Linked DNA regions of Homo sapiens. The protein of the gene in region 1 interacts with the protein of each later gene in a biochemical or structural test. Each region holds a gene or a part of one and is shown on either strand. Other genes may lie near its edges.

Region 1 (5,792 bases):
TATCACATCTAAGCTGCTTTTGCCAGATCTGATATCTACTCCCGACCTTAAGCCAGGAGACTTTGTAAACTTACTAGGTTATAATAAAACTTAAGAACTATCGATATTTACTAATCTACATCATGGAACTATTTCAAAAGCAGTCATATGGTAAGATGGATCAGGAGTCTTTAAAAATAAAACTGAGAAAGAAAAATCATGTGATCAATTCAGTAGTAGAGACAGAGGTTGGTATCAAGTCTATGTTCATACACTTACCAGTGCCACCCAGCAGGGCCATACAAGACACATGAAATGAGATCAGCTCAAGGGTGACAAGATGAAACTGGGAGAGGGCCGGGGAGACCCGAACTCTTAATATTGGATTCCACACAAGAGGAAAAATTTTAGTCCAGCTCCCAGCATGGCAGCTAATGGCAAGTTAGTACCATAAAGCCAACTCTTGGAATATACCTGACTTCCACGATAAAATGGAGATGAGTGCAGGGGTGAGTGTATAGTTAAGAAAACAAACAATATATTACTAGTCCAGGTGGTAGATGACAGATTTTTATTATTTACACTTCTCTCAAATTATTACATTCAGCATGTTTTGCTTTTTATGTTATTTAAAGTATAAACCCTCATATAATTCCCTAAGATGGGTGGCATGCCAAGTAGCTAAATGAAATATCATCCCAGCCCAAAAGTACTTATTCGAATGAAATATTACATTTTTCTTAAATAAAGCAATAAATTAGGTACCCTATTATCATGGTATTTTCTTTTTTGGCCAGCTTTTCTAGATAAGGTTGTATTGCTACTGCAACTAACAAAAAAGATGTGGCAGGGCTGGGCACGGTGGCTCACGCCTGTAATCCCAGCACTTTGGGAGGCCGAGGCGGGCAGATCACGAGGTCAGGAGATGGAGACCATCCTGGCCCAACATGGTGAAACCCCGTCTCTACTAAAAATACAAAAAATTAGCCAGGTGTGGTGGCAGGTGTCTGTAGTCCCAGCTCCTCAGGAGGCTGAGGCAGGAGAATCGCTTGAACGCGGGAGGCAGAACCTGCAGTGAGCCAAGATCATGCCACAGCACTCCAGCCTAAACTACAGAGCTAGAAAGTGGCTAGAGCAGCCAAAAAAAAAAAAAAAAAAAAAAAAAAAAAAGGTTCCTGAACCATTCAACAGAAAAATGAGGCCTATTCCTATCATTTCCTCGATCCAATTTAGTTCCACTTAGGTCACTGTGTTTATAATGTCTTTTAGGACAGATTTCCTTCCCCATTCTCCATCAAACAACCATAGCACCTGTGACTTTTATCTGTTGGTTTGTATTTAATCTTATTTTTAAGTGCTTCTTTGAAATTGTTTTACAAGTACATTCTTGGTCTAGAGTAAGGTTCTATATAGTTGGCCCTCCATATCCATGGGTTCCACTTCCGTGGATTCAAACAACCAGACAAAATATTCCAAAAAACATTGTGTCTGTAGTCAACATGTATATTTTTGTCATTATTCCTTAAACAATAGTGTAACTATTTACATAGCACTTACATTATAATAGGTATTATAAGTAATCTAAATATTAACATAAGCGGGAGGATTTGTGTAGATTGTATGCATATACAACATCATTTTATTCCAGAGACTTGAGCATCTGCGAATTTGGATATCCAAAGGAAGTCCTAGAACCAGTTCCCGACAAATACCAAGAGATGACTTTACTTTAGACCTAAGATCTTGCTAGACAGCCTTTGAGAGGATGAAGGATAACTAGAGCAGAAGCAAATCGCAGCGAAGTAGACTACAACAATCAAGTCAAAAAACATAAAGCTCCTATCAACACCTCAAGATTTTAGAAAAGCCTCTTAACGGGCAATTTTCTTTTAAATAAAGACTGGGTCCCACTATGTTAGCCAGGCTGGTCACAAACTCCTGGACTCAAGTGATCCTCCTGCCTTGGCCTCCTAAAGTGCTGGGATTACAGGCATGAGCCACTGTGCCCGGCCTGGGCAGTCGATTTTCAGGAAGCCACTTAATGTTCAGATTCTTTTCTTCTCTCCCAGGACTTTGCAGATGCTGCTGTTCCCTCTGCCTGGAGATGTTCATCTGGCCTGAATCCAAAAGTCTGTCCAAGTTACTTCTCTTTTCCATGACAGAGTTACAACTATTTGTCTGTCCCCCTTCCCCATTAGAGTATATGGTCCCCAAAGGAAAGCCCCATGCCATTCACTCACCACCTAATCATCCCCAACAACTAGTGGGCAAACATGAAACACTTTTGTTGAATAATGTGTTTCCTTTAGCCCAGGGATTACAAAGTCAAAGGCTTACAAGGGGGAAGGACTAGCAGGTGTGCTCGGAGGGGACTCTAGCCAACTGGAGAGTAACTGGTGAGAAGACAATGACATGCTCTTAGGGTGTCTGCTACTCAGATCCTCTCAGTTAAGTCCCGTGCACAAAGGTGGGTCAGGTCTACTGTTGCCAGATCTTCAGATCATTCAAAAGTTACCCGAATTCTGGATTTTCATGCAAATCTCCCAATTTTTAAAAATGTTGGCATCAAATTCAGAATGTTTTAACCAGCCACACTGTGTGGGCCAGGGAAAACAGGCCCAAAGGCCAGGTGAAGCTGCAGTTTTCAACTGCTGCCTTGGCCTCTCCCAGAGCCCCTTAAGTCCTAAGAAGGCTCAGTCAACACACTGGCACTCGTTTCATCCCACTGGTTGAGAAAGCAAGTCTTAGCAAAGTAATGGGGGAGTCTTACCAAAACTGCAAAGGAAAAAAATATGATACCATGAAATTAGAAATTCACTGCATTTGAAATGAAAATGACTTATTTCTGTACTTCTATAACTCACAAATTTAGCAGACATCATTTAGACATTTTTGTAGTGCAACAGATTTAAATCTGGAATTTCATGGTTTGTAAATCACTATGTGATACTAGCTATAACCATGAGCAATATTACGGGCAGTAAATGTTGATTTCTATTTCGTTTCTTGAAGTTTTGTGTGGTTCATTTTTAAAGTGAGATTCAATTTCCTTAGCTATAGTCAAATGTACCCTTTAAACAGCCCAAGAATTGTTATAAATGACAGCTGCTATCAGTTTTCAAATTTTACAATATTAGGGTTGTTAACTATTTCATTCTGAATTAAGCTAACATTTGTTACCAAGCAATGCATTTATTTGGAAGGATACCAGTTACCAGTCATCAAAAGCTTTTGTATGTTGAAAATGTAATTTTAATAGTTAATTCTTCATCTTACATAGGAGCACAATAAAATACACCACAATCTGAAGAAACTCCAGAATTACGAGAATAAGAGTGAAGAAAATTCAAATGGGCTACAATATCCATTACCTTAAACTGCAAGAGACAAGGTTGCAACCCGAAGGTTAACATTTATGTATTTATGACTGGCTACATTTATGACTTAAAAATAACAAGAATCAGGAATTAGATATGGAGAGAGGTGGGAAAGAACAGTTTTGTGAGGGGAGGAATTCGTCAATAAAGAAGAAAAATTACTGAATTCCAAATTAAAGAATAAAACGAGCTCCCACAGCAAATACTGGAGGGATGAAAGCAAGAATCATTAACTGAGGACTTGATACTCTCAAAGGGATAAACCTTTCTGATGACACACAAGCTAGATAGTTGAGATCTGCTCATCAGGTTTATAAGGAAGACTCACAAATGCCTCAGCAAATCCCAAATGATCAGATCAGTGTTTCTTAACACACATGAAAGGTTACAGATGAAATTTTCAGATAAGAACCAAGAAAAATGTCATAACCCAAATTTTAGGCAAAAATGTGGCACAACTGTGAAAGTCCTACATGTCAGTCACAACTGCTATCTTTGCTGTGACTTTCCTGTACAGTAATTTTTAAACATTGTGGCAAGACACCAATGATCATCTAATCAGACAACACAAACACATTTATTTCAAATTCCTAGAAGGTTAAAAAAAGGTCAGATACTGATGCTTTATGCATGCTCAGGGCCAGTTTATAAATACTCCATTCAGTACTATCTTAACACAAATCTGCATCAGTGAAAAGAAACTGGCAAAATCCACCTCTTGCCATTCAATTTGTCAGATGGTGAAGACCAAGAAAGAATGTTCCATCAGTTTCAATTTTAAAATACGATTGTCAAATTGGGAAAATGAAATAAACACAGTAAAATAAACTGTACAAAGGCAAAGTAGAATAACAAAAAATATTTTACTAAAACATAAGATTTACAGAAGTTTCCAGACAAGCCATACAAAATGGTCACAAGCTTTTTTTGAAGGGGGGAATCTACACTTGACAGCAATGTTATTAGTGAGGGCTGTGATGTTTGTTTAATGTTCCCATTTTGGTTCCAACAATCAAGCTTGTCCATCTACAGCGTCTAAATAAAGTTAGACTTGGCTAGAGCATATTCTAAAGACCTGGTTAGCTGCTTTTAACCAATGCAATTAGATCACCAAAAAAGGGGGAAAGGAGCCCATAAAATTAAACTACCTCCCCCCTCAAAAATAAAATAAAATAAAATAAAATAAAAACACCCACACCCCTGCAGCTAACCTGACAACTACCTTCATTCACAGTGCTTTATACTTAAACCAGGATGGGGGAAATGAATAAAAGCAGGGAGGGGCCACTGCTTTTAAACGTTTCACAACAATCCAGATGATACTTCTAGCCTCTGCTCATGCTTTATGACAGTGAATCAGGACAAGACATAGATTTGCTAATGTGCATTTAATCACCAAAGGACTGAAGATGTCTGGGCTTTTTTATTCTGTAATGTTTCTAAGACTGTGTCCATTAAATGCAAACAAAGAGGAGGAAGTCTTGGCAGAACAGGAGAAGTGATGCACACTTGATGATCGTATCAATTTAAATATTATTCATGGCATATAGCCTAGTCCATGCTCTAGCTGTAGACAGAAACAAACATACGATTATTATTTTACTTAGTTCAATATGTTACTTTCCAAACTATAAATGGCAAACAACCACTATTAATTATGGAAATGTCATGCTGTAATCTGTTAAATTCACGCCTTTTTCTATAAATTGGATCAGGGCTGAAAGATTTTGTAAATGTCCAATTACCAAAACACTACAATAAAATTAAGAAGTTCTAGAAAATTCAAGAGGATGAATCAAGTTGTCCATTTCTAGATACACAATTCTCCCCACTAATTTTCTTAAAATCTGTAGCAGAAGCTTCTTGACTCCAAATTCCGTAGCCATAAACAGCTGAATACTTTAATCAAATGGGTTACAAAAACAGTTCAAGTTTTCCAGTATTCTTTACATATAACTAGATAAATGGTATGCACTCAGTATTTGTTAAACCAGGTGTAGTTACAAGAGACTCCAAGATCTTTCAATTACAGGTTGTCTTTATATTTGGGGGGTCCCATAGCAAGCCATTTTGTTAAGACGTATTTACATACTATAAGCAGGATCTCACTTATTATACTTTTTTCTATTTCTTTTCCTTGCCAAGAGCTTTAGAAAAGTTTAAGTGGTAATACAAATTTGTAAAAGTGGAAGTGGTGTGAAGGAGAATGAATATTAGATACCTGTTTCTATGGCTTGGGCTTCGTTGGTCTTCCACTGCTCCGCTACATCATTTGCTAATGGATCATCTGGATTGGGAGCACTTAACAAGGCCTGGATCGATAGCAGAACTGTGCGGATCTGCAGTGCTGGGGACCACTTATCTATGAAGGCAACAGGCCCAGTATGATAAAGCATGAAAAAAACAGGCCCAGAACTGCTTCACTTCCCTCCCACA
Region 2 (6,334 bases), on another chromosome or scaffold:
TCCAGAGAGAAATAACATTAAAACTGGATATTCCAAGGGGCACAGGAATTGGCCAGTTGTCTAGAACACTGAAAGCATAGGGAAGCCCCAGAGAGCTCCAAGAACTTTGATGTTGTCACTCGTCACTTACTGAGAACATGGACAGAAGGTGCTTCAGGTCTGTGAGGGTCAGAGATGCAGAGGTCACAGAGCTACTCCAGCCCCAGGAGAACTTTGTATTTCAAAAGCAGGTGTTCCCTCATGGTAAGGAGGTAATATCCCCTCGGACAGCGATCAGAGCCCAAATGGCCTTCTATCACCACAGCGGCTATGATGGGGAAGGCAATGATGGGGAAGTACAGAAGACTTGACTTGACCTGGGTCTTCAGTCCAAGATCAAACATTTCAAATGGGACAGTCTAGGCATGAAAAGCACGTGCAGTGTTAAAGACACATCACTATTAATCATATTCAGAGTTCTCAAGTATTTCAGGATTAAGGAACAAGGACTGAATGGGATAGACGGAGGCACAGTTTTTTAAATTTTATTTTTTATTTTTAGGAAGCCCTTTTGCAAACCATACAAGATATAATAGAGATCTCACCAAAGACGACATCCTAGAGATGGAGAGGAGAAAAAAAAAACTTAAGTCCCATAAAGAAGGCAGAAACATGTTTTTGGTTGATCAAGATGAGTTTGGGCCAAATATAAGGAGGCTGCTTCACTGGAGGGAATCACAAAGCCATCTGGGGCAGGAATGTTGATGGTGAAGTGACTTCCCTGCTAAAGCTCGCTTGCTGGGATCCGGATGCCTCTGCAGAGACAAAGGTGGTTCAGAGTTCATGGGGAAAAGAGGCAGGGTTTGTGGCTGAGAAGCGGTGCCAATGGGGAGAGTGGCAGTGTCCAGAGAAAGCCATCAATAGTCAGTGGATCCTTGTGATCCAATATTCAGTGGACAGAGGGTTAGAGGGGCTGTGTTTTTTCCTCCATCATTGAAACCAGGACTGAAGAAGGGCCGCAGAGGTCCTGTAAAGGCACATTCAGAGAAGGAGTAGATGAGGGAGCCATGGTCAGTGATGTTGTAGAAGGAGACCATGCCAGCCTCATAGTCCAGGAAAATCCCAACTTGGCATGGAGGCACCTGAAGGTGGAGGGGAGTCTGGGGGTAGGTGCCAGCCTCATATTTTTGTTTGTTCCACAACCAAATTGTCCAGAAGCCACTCTTGGAACTAAGCAAAAAGTGCCCCTTCCTGCGCACAGAGTCTCTGCAGACACCCAGGTCCCAGGCCTCCTTTCCTGTCACATCTACCTCCCAGTAATGTTTTCCAGAGTGAAAGTGCTGGGCACCCAGGACCATAGGATAACTATCAAATCTCTCTTCATTTCCAGGTATGCTCTGCTGGGTGTCTCCAAGCCTCACTTGTCTCCGATCTTCTGAAAGTATCAGCCACGGATTGGCTGTGTCTGGATCCAGAGTGATGTGGACTGCAGAGAGAGGACCACAGTCAGGCCTTGCATGGGGGGAGTTCACTAAGTCTGTGCCTGTGGTGGGGGGATTTTGTGTAAACTCCAGGGTAAGCATGAGGGGTGAACCTCCCTGTGTGAGGAAATGACCATCAGCCAGTTCTGGCCTTGGTCCTGACCTCTGAAGAAACCATCTTCCTTACCTCCATCTCTGTTCCCCCTGCTCTGACCTGCCATCTCTCCTCCAAGTTGCCATCCAGGCTCCCTGACCCTGGGATCTACTCTGCACCCCATTATCCCCCGCAAAACTAGAACTTGCCTCACCTGCACATGTCCTCAGCATCTTCTTCAGCCCTGGCACATGGCACACACTCCTGAGTTCTGGAGAGGTAATATCCAGGTCCTTCAGGTTCCAGGACTCACTCCTGGGGGAAAGAGAGTTTGAGACTCCTGTCTCCTACTCCTATCCCAAACCCTAACACTATAACCTCCATTGTGGAGGACTCCGATAATTTAATTCAACTCAAATTTACAAAGACCTCTGGTGTTCAAGTCTCCAGGAGTGGGTGTGAGAGGCAAACAATGCAGGATTTAGTTTCTACCCAGGAGTTCCTGGTTATAGGAGGCTCTGCAGCATGTGGACAGTCTGTCTCTCCTGTCTAAGCCTGAGGTCACCTGGCAAATGCATTCAATTTCATTTTATAGGCAAGCAATCTGAGACAGGCTGAATCACTTCTGCAAGGAACCTCAAGGAGTCTTGCCCACACTGTGGGTCTTACTCATGGCTCTTTTTGGGAGGTAACTGGTTAGATTCCACTGAGAAAAGGAGTCCCAGCAGGCCATGTCCCAGTAGTCTGAATTCCGGGAAGACCCAGAACTTCCCAGGATTTCCCTGTTTGGCAGGACTTTACTGTGTGAAGATGTTATGATCCAACTACTGTGGGCAATCACCAATTGAGATGTCCATTTATTAGCTTTCTGAGACCAGAAAATATTTTATAGAGAATGAAGTTTTTGAGAATAGGAAGCCAGATGGGGAAAACTTCAGTGCATGTACTTCTAATTCAATCACCTTTGTCATAGGCATATATGCTTTCTGCTGGCCCCTCTTCTAACAAAGAAAACTCCTCCTTACCTTTCCAGGACAATTATCACCTCCTGAGGAGAAAAGAGACAGAAAGTAAGTTCTGGATTGCTGGATCGCCACTGAGACATCAGCCCTGTGGGTGATGTGATCCATCTTTGGTCCCTGGGGCACTGTTCCTCTCCTTCCTCTGGTCCTAGGCCCCAGAGATGATTCTGACCAGCTCAAAGCAGAAAGGATGTGTGGCTGCTTGTGAGGTAACCAGAAGCCCAGCATGGATGTGACCTATGGCTAGGGAAGGGTTATCAGTTTCAGGACTCTGACTCAAAGACCAGTTTTTTTTTTTTTTCCCCAGGGGAGAAAGAAAGGAGGGCAGAGAGGGCACATAGCCCAGCTTGGCTTAAGCCCAGAAACAATCACAGGCAGAGAATGGCCGAGTTCAGGTGTCCAGAAACCACTCTATTCCACTTGTGGGCTAGCATTGTTTGGGAAGGAAAGGTTGGTTAGTTAAAGCTCCCTTGGGTACTTAATGTTGCCTCTTCCTGTATGTGAAACCAAATCACTGAGAATATTTTTGTCGTAGGGATTAGGCGCCATTACATGGGAGCTAGCAGGCTCCTAGACTCAGTCAAAAGTGTGTTGGAAAGCCTGGTTTACAGACAGGTGTAGTGGCTCACTCTTGTAATCCCAGCACTTTGGGAGGCTGAGGGGGGCAGATCACCTACGGTTGGGAGTTTGAGACCAGCCTGACCAACATGGAGAAATCCCATCTCTACTAGGGATGCAAAATTAGCCAGGTGTGGTGATGTGAGGCTGAGGCAGGAGAATCGCTTGAACCCGGGAGGCGGAGGTTGCAGTGAGCCAAGATCACACCATTGCACTCCAGCCTGGGCAACAAGAGTGAAACTCTGTCTCATAAATAAATAAATAAATAAATAAATAGAAAGCCTGGTTCAATGTTGGGCAGAAGAGAGCCTGTCAAGTCAACCCAATACAATTAGGTTTTCTGCACAAACCTGAAAGCAATGGCTCATGACCACTCTGAGTGACACTGAACAGGTGTGGGAAAAGAGCTGTAGAATGTTAGAACAGAAGGGACTTGTGAGACCATCTAGTCCATAGTTTCCTACAGTGAGGCAAACATATCATTGGTGGATGCAAGATGATTCTAAGTGCAACATAAATTGATTTTTAAAAAGGTCCTGTACTTATTTTCATCTTTACTTTGCGTCTTGAACGCGAACCTTTCATGGGTTTGAATTCTACTTCATTTAAGAACATTCCAGGGACCAGGTGTCCATTTATTCAAATGGCAGTTCCAGATAGCTCTGGTCTTTTTCAGTTATTCCCTGAATTGTAGAAGGAAACCCCTCCCTGTCTCACCTGCAGCAGTTCCAGTGCTGAGCTGTGGCACCTTCGATCTAGCTCTGAGATGAGCTCCTGTAGGGCCTGGCTCTGCTGGGCCAGCTTGGCCTCTTTCTCCCCCAGGATTCTCAGCTGCTCCCTCTCATCCTTCTCCAGCTCCTGCAGCTGCCTCTGTTCTTCTTCAACCAGGAAGTTTTTTTGCTGCACAAACTCTGCGTGAATCCTAGATTTCTGTGTTTCCACTGTTTTCTTTAGTGTCAAGGGAAAGGGAGAGGTGGTTTTTATGAAAATCTCCCAAGCTTTGGGAATGGAGGTATTGGTACCTATTCCTATCCCCAAGAGACTCCACTCTGTGCTGTCTGGGAAAACACACACACATGCACACGCACACGCGCGCACACACACACACACACAATTTTGCTTGGGAGGTAGGTGGTTGAGGTTTCTGGGACAGTGAGGGGAATGGACTTGGTGAGGGCACACTGTAGCTGGCCTACAACGACAGCTACACGAATATATGGCATTGGGGACTTTTTCCAACCTCTCTTCCAAGCCCAGTCACCACTCAAATGTGCCCCTGTGTCTTCCTGTCTCAGTGAGTTACTGAGAAAAAAATCACCTGTTCCCACCTCCAACAACCTCACAAAGCCAGGCTCACGCCACCACCTCTAAGTCCTGGGAAAGGGGGCTTGGGGACATTCTTTGCTTTTCCTCTCCTGTTAGTAACTGGAAGGTCACTCGATGACACATGAGGGTCTGTTTTGTCACCACAACCCAACTCACACCCTACCTCAATCCCAAATCTTCCTCTTCTGTGATCTACTGGGGATGGGCTCCTTCTTCTCCCCTCTCATCCCTGACATGCCCCACCTCTCCTAGGAAATCATCAGTGCAGAACAAACATTGATTCTTCATTATATTTTGGACCAGAGATCTGGTCATGGTCAAGTAACCACCTGGTCAGATGGTTTCCTTAAGTTTATTCCTCACAGCCCTTGTCATTTCCTGAAAGGCTTAGCTAGCAGTTGGGTTTCTACTAGGATATTTGTCTCACACATCCAGGTGCTGACGCCATCACACCTCTGAGACTAGACTCAGAGGAGCTCGAAACTTTAGGGTATAGCTAGATCCTCTCAGCACCTTCTTCCAGGATTCTTGATCTTCAGGCCTGATGGGGAGCTCCCCTTTGAACCTGCATCATTTTTATTCCCCTCTATTTGTAAACCTAGAGAGCAGCTGGCTTCTGGAGAGTGAGACGGACCAACTCTATCACTGCTCAGAGAGGCACAGCTACGGTTAAGGCTGTGAGTTGAGGACTCTGGACCCTGCCCAGCCTTCCAGCCTAAGATCTCCTTCAGGATGTCATTCTTACCTTCCAGTCTGCTCTCTTTATTGCAATTTCCACTTCCAACTTCTCAGCCAACTCCTGCTTTCTTCTCAGTTCCCCTAATGCCACCTGGAGCTTCTCCTGCAGAGAAAGACAGCTTATTCGTCCCCCATGCAAACCAAGTAATAGGGTGGGGTAATCCTTGCAGCATTTTCTCATGCATATCTCCTACGCCTGGGGAATGAGGTTGGGTTTAACTTATAATTCTCCTCCTACATTAGACATGGAGAGAGGTAAACCCCTCCTTTCTCTAACCCCTCCAATCCAGAGGTGGTCCTCTCCCATTCCCTGCTCTGAAAACGAAGCACTCACCAGGTGTCTCTTAGGCCTCACCTGGTACTCCTGTGCAGCCTCCTCAAGAGGGACCATGGCGTGGTCACGGTGTTTCCGAGACTGGGCACATACCCAGCAAAGGGCCTTCCCATCTTTCTCACAGAACAGGTGAAGTCTCTCTCCATGCACTGCACACCGTTCCCCCTGTGTGCCCTCTCTGGCCTCCTGGCTGATTTCTTTAAGGTTGTTCACCATGTTGGCTAGCTGTCGATTGGGCCGGAGATTCTTGAGCAGAAAGCGCTGCCGGCACACAGGACAGACGCTGCCCCCACCTTTCCCAACCTGAGAGATGCATTCCTGGCAGAAGCTGTGGCCACACTCGATGCTCACAGGCTCCACGAAGGGGTCCAGGCAGATAGGGCATGTGACCTCCTCCCACATCATTGTCAAGCGTGCTGCTGAAGCCATTGTCAAGTGTGCCGTTAAACAGCAGTGTGGAGACCTTTAGGGGGTTTGGCTGGGAGAGAAGAAGAAAGGGAAAAGAGAATATGAGAAAGTCTGTGTAAGAAAAACAAAAAGTCAACATAATCCCTATCAAAATACCAATGACATTCTTCACAAAAATAGGAAAAAACAATCCTAAAATTTATATGGAATCACAAAAGACTCAGAATAGCCAAAGCTATCCTGAGCAAAAAGAACAAAACTGGAGGAATCACATCATCTGACGTCAAATTATACTGTAGAGCTAAAGTAACCCAAACAGCATGGTACTGGCATA
Region 3 (7,554 bases), on another chromosome or scaffold:
ATTTTTCTAGAGATGGGGTTTCATCTCTAGATGAAACTTTGGCCTCCCAAAGTGCTGGGATTACAGGTGTGAACCACATGCCTGGCCCAGCCAAATGATTGTTGACAAGGATGCCAAGTCTAATCAATGGAGAATAGACTCTTCAACAAATGGTACCAAGACAATTGGATTTCCACATACAAAAGAATGAAGTTGGACCCCTAATTCACACCATATACAAAAATTAACTTAAAATTGACCAATTACCTAAACGTAAGCTAAAACCATAAAACTCTTAGAAGAGGCTGGCACAGTGGCTCATGCCTGTAATCCCAACACTTTGGGAGGCCAAGGTAGGCAGATCACTTGAGGTCAGCAGTTCAAGACCAGCCTGGCCCACAGTGAAACCCCGTCTCTACTAAAAATACAAAAATTATCCAGGTGTGGTGGCAGGCGCCTGTAATCCCAAATACTTTGGAGGCTGAGGCAGGAGAATTGCTTGAACCCGGGAGGTGGAGGCTGCAGTGAGCTGAGATCGTGTCACTGCACTCCATCCCTGGGAAAGGAGCGAGACCTCGTTTCAAAAAAAAAAAAACTCTTAGAAGAAAACATAGGGGTAAATCTTCATGAACTGAGATTTGGCAATGGATTTGTAAATATGACAACAGAAGCACAAGCAACAAAAGAAAACAACAGATAAAAATTAAATTTAAAACTTTTGCACATCAAAGGATACCATCAAGAAAGTGACAACGCTTAGAATGGGAGAATATATATTTTATAATATATCTGTGAGTCATATCTAATTTGATATCCAGAATATAGAAGGAATCTCTAAAACTCAACAACAAAAAGATAAACAACCCAATTTTAAAATGGTCAAAGGACTTGAATAGACATTTCTGCAATGAAGATCTATAAATGACCAACAAGCACAAGAAAAGATGGGCAACATCATTAGTCATTAAGGAAATCCAGATCAAAATCACAGTGAGGCTGGGTGCGGTGGCTCACGCCTGTAATCCCAACACTTCCGGAGGCCGAGGTGGGCAGATCACAAGGTCAAGAGATCGAGACCATCCTGGCCAACATGGTGAAAACCCGTCTCTACTAAAAATACAAAAATTACCTGGGTGTGGTGGTGCATGCCTGTAGTCCCAGCTACTTGGGAGGCTGAGGCAGGAGAATCACTTGAACCCAGGGGGCAGAGGTTGCAGTGAGCCAAGATCATGCCACTACACTCCAGCCTGGCAACAGAGCAAGACTCCATCTCAAAACAAAACAAACAAAAAAAATGTGGCACATCCACCCAATGGAATATCATTCAGCCCCATAAAAGGAATAAAGTTCTGACACATGCTACAACATGAATGAACTTTGAAAACACTATGCTAAGTGAAAGAAACCAGGCACAAAGGGACAAACATTGAACGATTCCAGTTATATGAAATATCTAGAACAGGCAAACTCAGATACAGAAAGTAGCTTAGATGTGAGCAGGGGCTAGAGGGAGGAGAAATGAGGAGTTACTGCTTAATGAGTACAAAGTTTCTGTTTATGATGATGAAACAGTTTTGGAAACAGAAGTGATAGTTGCACAACAGGAAATGTAACTAATTTGTCACTGAATTGTACACTTAAAAATGGTTAAAATAGGCGGGGCGCGGTGGCTCACACCTGTAATCCCAGCACTTTAGGAAGCCGAGGCGGGCAGATCACGAGGTCAGAAGATCGAGACCATCCTGGCTAACAACGGTGAAACCCCGTCCCTATTTTTTAAAAAAAGAAAAAAACATACAAAAAATTAGCCAGGCGTGGTGGCGGGCGCCTGTAGTCCCAGTTACTCGGGAGGCTGAGGCAGGAGAATGGCGTGAACCCGGGAGGCGGAGCTTGCAGTGAGACAAGATGGCGCCACTGCACTCCAGCCTGGGCCACAAAGCAAAACTCCGTCTCAAAAAAATAAAAGGTTAAAATGAGGCCAGGCGCTGTGGCTCATGACTGTAATCCCAGCACTTTGGGAGGCCGAGGCGGACGGATCATCTGTGGTCAAGAGTTTGAGACTAGCCTGGCTAACATGTCGAAACCCCGTCTCTACTAAAAATACCAAAATTAGCCGGGCGTGATGGCGCACGCCTGTAATCCCAGCTACTCTCGAGCCTGAAGCAAGAGAATCACTCGACCCTGGGGGGCGGAGGTTGCAGTGAGCCGAGATCACGCACGCCATTGCACTCCATCCAGCCTGGGCGACAGAGCGAGACTCCGTCTCAAAGAAATAAAGAAAAAGGTTAAAATGGCCAGTTTTAATGTTATATAGATCTTACCACAATTTTACAAGTTTCAGAGAAAGAGACCGAAGATCGATTGGGAAGAAGTTGAAATATGCCAAGCTGTGTAACAGCTAAGTTGACAAGCTTTCGGAAGATGGGGAATTTGTTTTTTTCTACTTCTTCATACTTTTATGAACTTTCCAAAGTGCCTCCGAAGAGCGGAACTCGACTTTTAGACTGAGAAAAGGAACGTAAAAGTAGAACGGCTGAGGAAAGGGGTTCGAGCCACATGGGAAAGGGTCAGGCGGCGGGCAGCCCGGGGGAGCCAGGGGAGCTGCGGGCCCGGCCTCCCTACCCGCTGCAGTTCCGGGCGGCGCCGGGGCCTCGCGGCCGCGCTGGAGAGGGAACTGGAGCCCGGGCAGGGGCAGTGGGCAGGGTCGGAGCCCGCCTGTATCTCGCGTGCGGCGCGGCGGTACTTGTCGGCCAGGTCCTGCAGTAGCGTGTTCTTCCGCAGGTGCGGCTGCTGCGCGGCGCCCTGGCGGCAAGTGGGGCAGGCCCAGCGGCGGGCGTCGCGGGCGCCCCACAGGGCCTCCAGGCAGTGGCGGCAGAAGCTGTGGCCGCAGGGCAGCGTGGCGGGCCAGTCCAGCAGCCCCTGGCAGATGATGCAGCCGAGGTCGTCCTCGGCCAGCCACACGGGAACGGCGGAGCCCAGGCCCAGGCCCGCCATGGCCAACAGGCGGCCGGGGCGCGGACGTCGGGGTTGAGCCGGGCGAGTCTCCTCAGGCTCCTCCCTCGCCCTTCCTCTTCCCCTTGCCCTCCTCCTTTTCTCGGCCGCCTTTTCTCCTCCTTCCTTGGCGCCACCCCGTCTCCTTCCTCCGATCCTGCTGAAAACAGACTTAGAGCCTCCAGTGCCCAGCTGGAAAGACAGAGCTGACCTTCAGTGGCGGCCTCTTGCCCTGGGAAACCAACATGCCGCGAGCTGCTAGAAACCCGCGGAGGTCTCCAAGATTCCCTTTAGCTGGATGTCCCTCCATTAAGATGCAGCACCGTTGGATGTCTTCGTCCGTTGGCTTAAAAAAAAATAAACAACAAAAAAGATGCAACACCGACAACTCTTGGGAGGAGAGGACTCCATTCAGCAGCTTATTTATGAGAATGAGCCCACGAAGTGTCATCCAGCTCCTCTAACAAGTAGCAGGGGATTAAAGATCACCGATGCACAGCCACAGGGAGCGTCCTCAAAAATGCTGATGTTCGGCCCCGCTCGCAGGGAGTCTGATTTCATTGTCTTGGGTGGAGCACGGGTATTTTGTAAAACCTCCCCCAGGTGATTCTGACGCGCATTCAAGGTTGAGTGAGCGAACCCTTGGCTTTTTAACTCGCAGGTATAATGCAGAGTTGTGCGCTGTGTCCTTACCGCCTTCTGCGGGATGTAAGCGCGTTTCCCAACAGACACTCGGACAAAATTCTAGAAAGTGTTTTCCTGAGAAGGCTCACTCACTCACTCACTTCGCATCCCAGTCCTAAACGCATTGCAACCAGAAAATGTTAGAGCTAAAAGAGCACCACGTCCTCCCAGATGACCCAAAGAGGTTAAAAAAAAAAAAAAGAGAAAAAAGAAAAACTTGCAGGCTCTCATGGTAACAATGAAGCGTCAGAGACTAAAACCCACAACTCCCCAATCTGTTGAAATGAACTAACAACGTCTCATGCTTTACTTTATCCTTTCTGGCCTGGGCTCAAAGTAGGTATCAGATAATACAAGTTTGTAGCCGACCTTTGGATCACTTGAAGTCAGGAGTTCAAGACCAGCCTGGCCAACATGGTGAACCCTCATCTCTACTGAAAATACAAAAAGAAAAGAAAAGAAAAGCCAGGCGCCCTGGCGCATGCCTGTAATCCCAGCTACTTGGGAGGCTGAGGCAGGAGAATCTCTTGAACCCGGGAGGCGGAGGTTTCAGTGAGCCAAGACTGCGCCACTGCACTCCAGCCTGGGCGACATAGGGAGACTCCGTCTCAAAAAAAAAAAAAAAAAAAAAAAGAAAAAAAAGAAAGAAAAGAAAGAAAAAAAAGCGTTTGTGGTTATTTCTAATACTGGAAGTGTCATGGAGTAGGCAGCGCTGCTCATCAACGTTTCCAGTGCTTTCCCTTTCTGGGCACATGGTAGGACTGGCACTTCCCTGACCCACTTGAAACACACAGAGGTAATATGTTACTTCCCACCAGCTTTAAAGGCGACTGAGCCGGCCATTGTATCCCTTTCTGCCAGCTGCCCCAATTATGGAGATGAAACCATCATCCGGTGACCTGGGTCACTGAGTGGCTAAGATGAGCAGACTCCCTGCCAACGCACCCTAGGATACGTAGTAAGAGGGAGAAGAAAACTAGGATGTATTCAGCTTACTGAGATTTAGTGGGTGTGTGCTGCTACAGCATAACCTAGCCTATCCTGACTGATGTATTACCTGGATCTTGTTCTAGAATCTCCGCATCGGAGTAAAATCGTAGTTTCTAAGAGCCTCTTTTTTTCTGTAAAACGGGCATGATACTAAACACTTAAACATGCTCAGATCTTCCAACTTAAAAAATGAAATCACTGGCGGGGCGTGGTGGCTTATGCCTGTAATCTCAGCACTTTGGGAGGCTGAGGCAGGTGGATTGCCTGAACTCAGGAGTTCGAGACCTGCCTGAGCAACATGGTGAAACCTTGCCTCTACAAAAAAAATACAAAAACTACCTAGACATGGTAGCGCAGGCCTGTGATCCCAGCTACTCAGGAGACTGAGGTGGGAGGATTGCTTGAGCCAGGGAGGTGGAGGCTGTAATGAGCCATGAGATCTCAGGAGGTCAAGACTGTGGTTAGCTGTGATCACACCACTTCACTCCAGCCTGGGGAAGGAGCTAGACCTAGTCTCAAAAAAATTAAAAATTAAAAAATAAAATAAAATCACCTTTGACCTGAGCCTCCCTGGAACCAGCTCTCCTCTTCTCCATTTCACAGCCAAGTTTCTGGAAAGAGTGAGTTAACCAGTAGTTTTCAAACTTTTTTCTTGGACACGCCCTAAAAGTTTTATGCAAAATCATGCAGTGGTTATAAGAAAGGGGGAAGTGGGGGCCGGGCGCAGTGGCTCACGCCTGTAATCCCAGCACTTTGGGAGGCTGAGGCGGGCGGATCATGAGGTCAGGAGATTGAGACCATTCTGGCTAACACGGTGAAACCCCGTCTCTACTAAAAAATACAAAAAAAATTAGCCGGGCGTGACGGCGGGAGCCTGTAGTCCCAGCTACTCAGGAGGCTGAGGGAGGAGAATGACCTGAACCCAGGAGGCGGAGCTTGCAGTGAGCTGAGTTCGCACCACTGCACTCCAGCCTGGGCGACAGAGCAAGACTCTGTCTCAAAAGAAAAAAAAAAAAGAAAGAAAGAAAGGGGGAAGGGGGAGAGTGGTCAGCTCTGGTAGTAAAAATATATTAGCAAATTCTTCATTTATATCAGATTTTTTTTTTTTTTGAGATGGAGTCTCACTTTGTTGCCCAGGCTGGAGTGGAGTGGAGTGGCACAATCTCGTCTCACTGCAACCTCCACCTCCCGGGTTCAAACCATTCTCCTGCCTCAGCCTCCGGAGTAGCTGAGATTACAGGCGCTCGCCACCATGCCCGGCTAATTTTGTATTTTTAGTAGAGATGGGGTTTCCCCATGTTGACAGGGTTTCTCCATGTTGGCCAGGCTTGTCTCGAACTCCTGACCTCAGGTGATCCGCCCACCTCATCCTCCCAAGTGCTAGGATTACAGAGGTGAGCCACCGCGCTCAGCCTACATCAGACATTTTGTCATTCTTGGCCGAGTGCGGTGGCTCATGCCTGTAATCCCAGGACTTTGGGAGGCCGAGGCAGGCGGATCATGAGGTCAGGAGTTCGAAAAATACAAAAAAAAATTAGCTGGGCGTAGTTGCAGGCACCTGTAATCCCAGCTACTCAGGAGGCTGAGGCAAGAGAATCATTTGAACCCGGGAGGTGAAGGTTGCCATGAGCCAAGATGGCACCATTGCACTCCAGCCTCGGCAACAGGGCAAGACTCCGTCTCAAAAAAAAAAAAAAAGAAATTTTGTCATTCTTTTATCTTTCTGAACTTGTATTTCCATTCCATTTCCTCCACAGAATTACATTCCAAAGCAATATATTTCATGCATGAAAGTCTTTTATCACTTTGTAATACTTCTCTACAACAAAAGTATGTATGTGTATTAAATTTTTAATTCTTCTTAACTTCCTGTGACAAAAAGGCTCTTGGTAAATTTTTTCCCCTGGATTTAATTATCAATATAATTACTATTAGCAGTCAAACAAAAGAAAAGTATGCTGCAATTTATAACTTTTATATAAATAAAATAACTTTTAAAGACAGTAAACATTTTATTGGAATGATAGCTATTAATAAGACAGATGGGCTCATTTCTTTCAAAAATGCATTTATGCCCAGGCACGGTGGCTCACATCTGTAATCCCAGCACTTTGAGAGGCCAAGGTGAGCGGAACACTTGAGGTCAGGAGTTTGAAACCAGCCTGGCCAACCTGGTGAAACCCTGCCTCTACCAAAAAATACAAAAATTAGCTGGGCATGGTGGCCTGAGGTCCCAGCTACTCCAGAGGCCGAGGCAGGAGAATTGCTTGAACTTAGGAGACGGAGGTTGTAGTGAGCTGAAATGGCACCACTGCACTCCAGTCTGGGCAACAGAGCAAGACTCTGTCAAAAAAAGAAGCATTTATCTATGAATGAACATTACTTAATGATAGACAAACTTTTGCAATAAATTCTATTTCTTTTATGTTTTTATGTGTGCCGAGAAATCTTGTTCACATGTATAAATAGATGACAAAATTGTCACTCATTTTGTTGAATACTTTTTGAGATATATGCAAAAAAGTCATATAGTGATAATCTCTCAATTAACAACTTGATTTGATTTTTCTTTAATTTTTGTTGAAAGCAAGAATTTGAGGTCGGGCGCGGTGGCTCACACCTGTAATCCCAGCACTTTGGGAGGCCGAGGCGTGTGGATCACGAGGTCAAGAGATCAAGACCATCCTGGCAAACACGGTGAAACCGCGTCTCTACTAAAAATACAAAAAAAAAAAAAAAATTAGCCAGGCACGGTGGCGGGCGCCTGTAGTCTCAGCTACTCGGGAGGCTGAGGCAGGAGAATGGTGTGAACCCTGGGAGGCAGAGCCTGCAGTGAGCCAAGATCGCGCCACTGCACTCCAGCCTGGGCGACAGCGAGACTCCATCTCAAAAACAAAAAAAAGAATTTGA

The links. The genes of interacting proteins can lie anywhere in the genome.
Region 2: the proteins of UBE2N (region 1) and TRIM21 form a complex in vitro, tested with the Homo sapiens proteins (3 studies listed by BioGRID, with this or other methods).
Region 3: the proteins of UBE2N (region 1) and RNF135 form a complex in vitro, tested with the Homo sapiens proteins (4 studies listed by BioGRID).

Annotation. Positions count from the first base shown.
Region 1 is NC_000012.12:93,405,157-93,410,948, forward strand, and holds the end of UBE2N (ubiquitin-conjugating enzyme E2 N), read right to left. Parts: intron 5,719-5,792; coding exon 5,578-5,718; intron 4,924-5,577; coding exon 4,883-4,923; 3' UTR 528-4,882; downstream 1-527. UniProt on the Homo sapiens protein: The UBE2V1-UBE2N and UBE2V2-UBE2N heterodimers catalyze the synthesis of non-canonical 'Lys-63'-linked polyubiquitin chains. This type of polyubiquitination does not lead to protein degradation by the proteasome.
Region 2 is NC_000011.10:4,384,389-4,390,722, forward strand, and holds the end of TRIM21 (E3 ubiquitin-protein ligase TRIM21), read right to left. Parts: intron 6,071-6,334; 5' UTR 6,022-6,070; coding exon 5,614-6,021; intron 5,362-5,613; coding exon 5,266-5,361; intron 4,143-5,265; coding exon 3,912-4,142; intron 2,603-3,911; coding exon 2,580-2,602; intron 1,870-2,579; coding exon 1,769-1,869; intron 1,466-1,768; coding exon 897-1,465; 3' UTR 509-896; downstream 1-508. UniProt on the Homo sapiens protein: E3 ubiquitin-protein ligase whose activity is dependent on E2 enzymes, UBE2D1, UBE2D2, UBE2E1 and UBE2E2.
Region 3 is NC_000017.11:30,966,493-30,974,046, reverse strand, and holds the start of RNF135 (E3 ubiquitin-protein ligase RNF135), read right to left. Parts: upstream 3,009-7,554; 5' UTR 2,974-3,008; coding exon 2,602-2,973; intron 2,584-2,601; exon of another isoform or gene 2,301-2,583; intron 1-2,300.